2 separate regions of the Homo sapiens genome follow, and region 2 is linked to region 1. Evidence: fine-mapped expression QTL. A gene starts in region 1. The other region holds a variant in brackets. All regions are shown on one strand. Distances are from middle to middle.

Region 1 (2,917 bases):
CACTGTTTTCAGTTCACAATAATTTTATGAGGCTGTTAGTTACTTTTTTTTTTTTTTTTTTTTTTGAGATGGAGTCTTGCTCTGTCGCCCAGGCTGGAGTGCAGTGGCACGATCTCAGCTCACTGCAACCTCCACCTCCCAAGTTCAAGCGATTCTCCTGCCTCAGCCTCCCAAGTACCTGGGACTACAGGCACGTGCCAGCACGGCCAGCTAATTTTTATATTTTTAGTAGAGGCGGGGTTTTGCCACTTTGGCCAGGCTGGTCTCAAACTCCTGACCTCAGGTGATCTGCTCACCTCGGCCTCCCAAACTGCTGGGATTACAGGCATGAGCCACCACGCCTGGCCCAGTTAGTTACTATTAATATCCCTAGTTTACAGTTGAGGAAACGGAAGCATGTAAAGATTAAGTAAGCTTGCTTAAAATAACAACTGTTGGCCGGGCGTGGTGGCTCATGCCTGTAATCCCAGCACTTTAGGAGGCCAAGGCAGGCGGATCACAAGGTCAGGAGATCGACACCATCCTGGCTAACACGGTGAAACCCCATCTCTACTAAAAATACAAAAAATTAGCTGGGCGTGGTGGCGGGCGCCTGTACTCCCAGCTACTTGGGAGGCTGAGGCAGGAGAATGGCGTGAACCCAGTAGGCGGAGCTTGCAGTGAGCCGAGATTGCACCACACCACTGCACTCCAGCCTGGGCGACAGGGCGAGACTCTGTCTCAAAAAATAAAAATAAATAAAAATAAAAAAATAACAACTGTTAAGTGGTGGGCTGGGATTTGAATCCAGGCAGTCTGGCTTCTAAGTGCACGTTCTTAGCCATTAGACTATATGGCTCTCATTATTTTGCACTGTCAAAAATAAATGATCCTCTTTTACACACCCAAGAGTACATTATTTGTACTTTCATTTAGCATTTAGGGTTTATATATCTGTCTTTCCAACTAAACTTGGGGTTCCTTTGGGGCTTTATAGTCTCTTCTAAACATATCATAGTAGCTTGCACGTGTGCCTTATGTTTGGGTACAGTAACTATGTTATGGACATCTTAAACATTTTCCTTGTGAGGGCGCTCCTTTCCTCACCTTTGGAAAAATTTGGCAAGCAGTTCCCTGTTCTTAGCTACGCCAGCTTTGCGTCCACAATGCGGGAAGATGAAATAAATTTGATCAAATTCTCTCTCGTGCAGTTCAAAGACATCTGCCAGCTGGGTGCAGTCCACACCGAAACGTACATCGATACCTGGCAAAGATAGTTTGGGGGCGCAAAATATAGACAGGAGGATGCCTCAAGACATGGAACAGAAAAACTCTTCCTAACTTAAACCGTGCAGACCAGCCCAAGTCTGGGCACAAAGCCGGCTTTATGTGAATATCCGTGGGACGATCAAGAACAATCTCCACGTGGGTTACATCCCCACGCCCCCACCCTTTCCACTTTGGGACGCGCCGGCCGCTGGGCGGGGTTTCGCAGAGGGGCGGGCTCGCTACCTCGCTCGCGCAGGCACTGCAGATTCTCCCAGGCCAGTGGATCCCGAGCCAACTCGGCCGGGCGCTGGAGGCAGGTGGCGGTAAGTTGAGTGCTCTGATCCAGGGTTTCGCTCAGAGCGGCGGCGAAGGAGAAATTCCCCTCCCCAACCAACAGGAGGCGCCGAGGGGCCATGGCCTCCACGGACTCCCGGCTCGCGTTCTCTGTGGCGCTCGTTTTACGTCACTTCCTTCACGGATCTCTCTCCGCCCCGTCTTCTCCCGTCACTAGTTGATGACGCACCCATGGCGCCTGGTTGTCTAGACGAGCCGGTGTACCGACTCCCCGGTGGATGATAACTATGAGTGCAAAAGCAAGACGCGCACTTTCCTGTCACCTCGCCCTTTCACCCCCTCGGGAAGATCAAAGTGTCTTTAGCCCAAGCATGGCCTTGAGCGACTTCATCACACCTGCATGAGGTCACAAGCAGTCACTAGCGCAGGGGGGTGAGGCGAGTTCTGGGTGAAAGAAACGGGGCGGGGCTGAGGCCAAGGAAGAGGTTGGACTGTGTCTCGCATGCTCCTGACGCAGAAGGTTTTGAACCTTTTTTCACCTCGTCTGAAATGGCTGCCTCCCAGTGTCTCTGCTGCTCAAAATTTCTCTTCCAGGTGCTTAAATCTCCTATCTTCTATTCGTTCAAGAAAGAGTATTGAGTGTCTATTGCGTGCCAGGCCACTGTGAGGGTGGTTACGATATGTGGATGAACAAAATGTGGCCTATGATTTCAATGAGCCTGCAGTCTGGTGGGGAATGCACAGAGCAAAACAGGCAACTCTGATATGGCAGGGTGTGTGCTCTGGGAGCACACAGAAGAACGTTACCAAGTTTGGGGGCGAAGAGGGTCAGAGAGTCCTTGGATGAAGTAAACCCGAGTTGAAAGCTAACAGGGTAAAAGTGCATCTTAACTGAGTCAAGAGGCGTGAAGAGGCAGAAGGAACAATATATGCAAAAGCTTGATGGAGAAACAGAATAGTTGAGTTTGGCTGAAACACAATTGGAGGGAGAGTAACAGATGAGACTGAAGAGTTAGGCAGGGGCCAGGTCATAGGGAGCGTTGTAAGCCTTTAAAAAAAATCAACTTTTATTTTACAAATGGGGGTACAGGTACAGGTTTGTTACGTGGATATATTGCACCCAGGTAGGTTGCAGGTTTGCTACATGGGTATATTGCACCTAATAGTTTTTCAACCCACACCACCCGCCCTCCCCACTCTAGTTAGTAGCCTGGAGTGTGTGTTGTTTCCATGTTTAGGTCCATGTTTGCTCAATGTTTAGCTCCCACTTATAAGTGAGAATGTCAGAGGTATTTATACCAGAGCAACTCCGTCTTGAATAGGGGCTAGGTAAATAAGGCTAAGACCTGGGCTGCATTCCCAGTAAGTTAAGGCA
Region 2 (2,917 bases), 27 kb after region 1:
CCAAGGCAGGGATATTGCTTGAGCTCAGGAATTCAAGACCAGTCTGGGCAACATGGTGAAACCCCATCTGTACAAAAAATATAAAAATTAGCTGGGTGTGGTGGTATGCATCTGCAGTCTCAGCTACTCAGAAGGCTGAGGTGGGAGAAGCACTTAAGCCTGGAAGGTCAAGGCTGCAGTGAGTTGTGATCATGTCACTGCATTTCAGCCTGGACGACAAAGTCAGACTTTGTCTAAAAAAAAAAAATATTTAATTAACAAAAATTCAGTCAGGAGGTCAGATGTGGTGGCTCATGCCTATAAATCCAGCACTTTGGGAGGCCAACGCAGGAGGCTTCCTTGAGCCCAGGAGTTCAAGAACAGCCTGGGCAACATAGTGAGACCTTGTCTCTAAAAAAAAAAAAAGCCCAGCATGGTGGCTCAGGCCTGTAGTCCCAGCTACTTGGGAAGCTGAGGCAGGAAGGTGGCTTGAGCCCAGGAGGTTGAAGCTGCCATGAGCTGTAATCATGTAATATTGTTTGGCTGTGTCCCCACCCAAATCTCATCTTGAATTGTAGCTCCCATAATTCCCATGTGTTGTGGGAGGGACCTGGTGGGAGATAATTGAATCATGGGGGAAGTTTCCCCCATACGGTTCTTTGGTAGTGAATAAGTCTCACAAGATTTGATGGTTTTATAAGGGGAGACCCTTTTCACTTGGTTCTCATTTCTCTCTTGTCTGCCACCATGTAAGATGTGCCTTTCACCCTCTGCCATGACTGTGAGGCCTCCCCAAACACGTGGAATTGTGAGTCCATTAAACCTCTTTTTGTTTATAAATTACCCAGCCTCAGGTATGTCTTTATCCGTAGCATAAAAACGGACTAATACATCATGCCACTGCAAACAACAACAACAACACAAAAACCAACCAACCAACCAAAATTCATCCAGGGTAACTGTCTCCAGGACTCCTTCTGTGTCCAGAATAGGTATTTCCCTTCAGGGTCCCCATAGCAGACATTTTGAATGGACATCTTAGGATCTTAAAAAGGTATCTCGGAATTATCTTTTTACTTGCCTGCTCTTCCACTCAATTCTTAATTCCTTAAGAAAACATGTCTTATTTTTGTAGCTAGCACATAGAAGGCACTCAAATAATCATTGAATGAACAGCAATTATAAATCTTCAGAACAACAATCGGACCCAGTGCAATCTTCAAAATAAAAATGTGAAGTAAAAAGTAGCATAGAATTTTTCGAAGCATAAAAATATGTATCATTCCAAAAGCATTAGGCAAAGATAACCATCTCATTTTCTAAGTATTACATCTTACTGAAATAACATATATATATTATACACACATTCCCCAGAATTCTTCTTTAAAAAATGATTGCTTTAAAAAGGTTAAAGCACTTAGCACAGTGCCTACCACACAGTAAGTGCTTGATATGGCTTGGCTCTGTGTCCCCACCTAAGTCTCATGCCAAATTGTAATCCTCAATGTTGGCAGAGGGGCCTGGTGGGAGGTGACTGGATCATGGGAGTGGACTTCATAGCTTTTCTCATGATAGTGAGTCGAGTTCTCATGAGACCTGGTTGTTTAAAAGTGTGTAGCACTTCCCCCTTCG[G/C]TCTCTCTTCTTCCTGCTCCAGCCATGTAAGATGTGCCTGCTTCCCCTTTGCCTTCCCACCATGATTGTAAGTTTCCTGAGGCCCCCCCAGCCATGCTTCCTGTGGAACTGTGAAATGATTAAACCTCTTTTTTTATAAATTACCCAGTCTCAGCCAGTTCTTTATAGCAATGTGAGAATGGACTAATACAGTGCTCAATAAATGTTAGCTAACATTAAAAGACAAAACAAATACTAATTAGAATTGTCTCAGTAAACTTCTGGTATAATTCAGATATAGGGAATGAAGTAGAATTGTGGATGAGTTAGCTATAAAGCTAAAAAAAAAAACCTCTCAAATATACTGTACTAGAATAGTCCTATACTAATATCGTAGCAGTGAATAGCCACAGCAAAGGGTGTGATCTAGGAAAGAATAACAATAAAGAACCAGTCTAACTTAGGCACTTATGGTGACAATAAACAAAAAAAGTGGCCCTGCACATTTTTGAAACAAATATCATTATATAATAGTCGAAGTTGTGATTTATTTAAAACCAAGTCCATAATTGCTTGGGAAATATACTAGTAATTAACTAAAATGATTAAAATTGACACATGGCTTCCAGGCATTCAGTTATTTTACACTATCTAATTCAGCCTTGATAATGTTAGATATTTTTGCCTACTAGTAACAGAAAACCCACGTCAAAACAGATTATTAACAAAAACAAGACATAATCAGACAGCCTGAAGTAGGGAAACTCTAGAGTTGGCTAATTCAGCAGTTCATTGACCCATTAAGGACCTGAGATTATTGTCTTTGTGCTCAGCATATCATGGATGCCCGCTTCACGTTTTCAAAATGGCTACAGTAATCCAGGCATCACATTCTCGTGCTCCAACATCCAGAGCAAGGAAAAAAAAAATCTCTCTCTCTCTCTCTCTGAATCTTTCTGAAATCTTTTCTTAGTTTAGAAACTTTTTCTAGAAGCATCTCCAACAGACTTCCCTCCTGTCTCATTTGCCATAATTGAGTCATAGCCCTTTCAAGAATAATCTTGAAAATCAAGAAGAGAATTTCCCTGCTTGATTTGGACTAATCAAGATAGACCTCCTATGGCTGGAGCTTGAGTTCACTTCTCTGAAGCACATGGCTAGGAAGAACATGGTGTATACCTAAACCAATCTGGGATACTGTTGGCAAGGCTGAAGGTGGTAAATAGCTGTTGGTTAGGCAACCAACAGTGTCTGCTACACAGCCACAAAAATTGGCTGTAAACTTCTGGCTAGATCACAGTATTTCAGACTATTAGGAAGTTGTTTT

Direction of the effects. Alleles are on the strand shown, and positions count from the first base shown. SD is a standard deviation of normalised expression in the study named.
In carriers of allele C in region 2, the expression in fibroblasts of the gene that starts at base 1,696 in region 1 tends to be lower than with G alone (small effect, 0.19 SD a copy in GTEx).

What was found.
Region 2: its variant is fine-mapped to the expression of FDXACB1 in fibroblasts (GTEx, PIP 0.95).

What each region holds. Positions count from the first base shown.
Region 1 is chr11:111,877,470-111,880,386 of GRCh38, forward strand. FDXACB1 (ferredoxin-fold anticodon binding domain containing 1) reads right to left here and starts at 1,696. Exons shown (of 5, transcript NM_138378.3): 1 at 1,492-1,696; 2 at 1,087-1,243. The coding sequence starts at 1,663. CFAP68 (cilia and flagella associated protein 68) reads left to right here and starts at 2,072. Exons shown (of 4, transcript NM_022761.3): 1 at 2,072-2,136. The coding sequence starts at 2,092. RefSeq lists enhancers at 1,364-1,983, 1,480-1,949.
Region 2 is chr11:111,904,102-111,907,018 of GRCh38, forward strand. No RefSeq gene overlaps it. Among named protein-coding and RNA genes, the nearest start is that of CRYAB, 6.2 kb to the right of the region's middle. The variant G/C (reference allele first, on the strand shown) is at 1,612.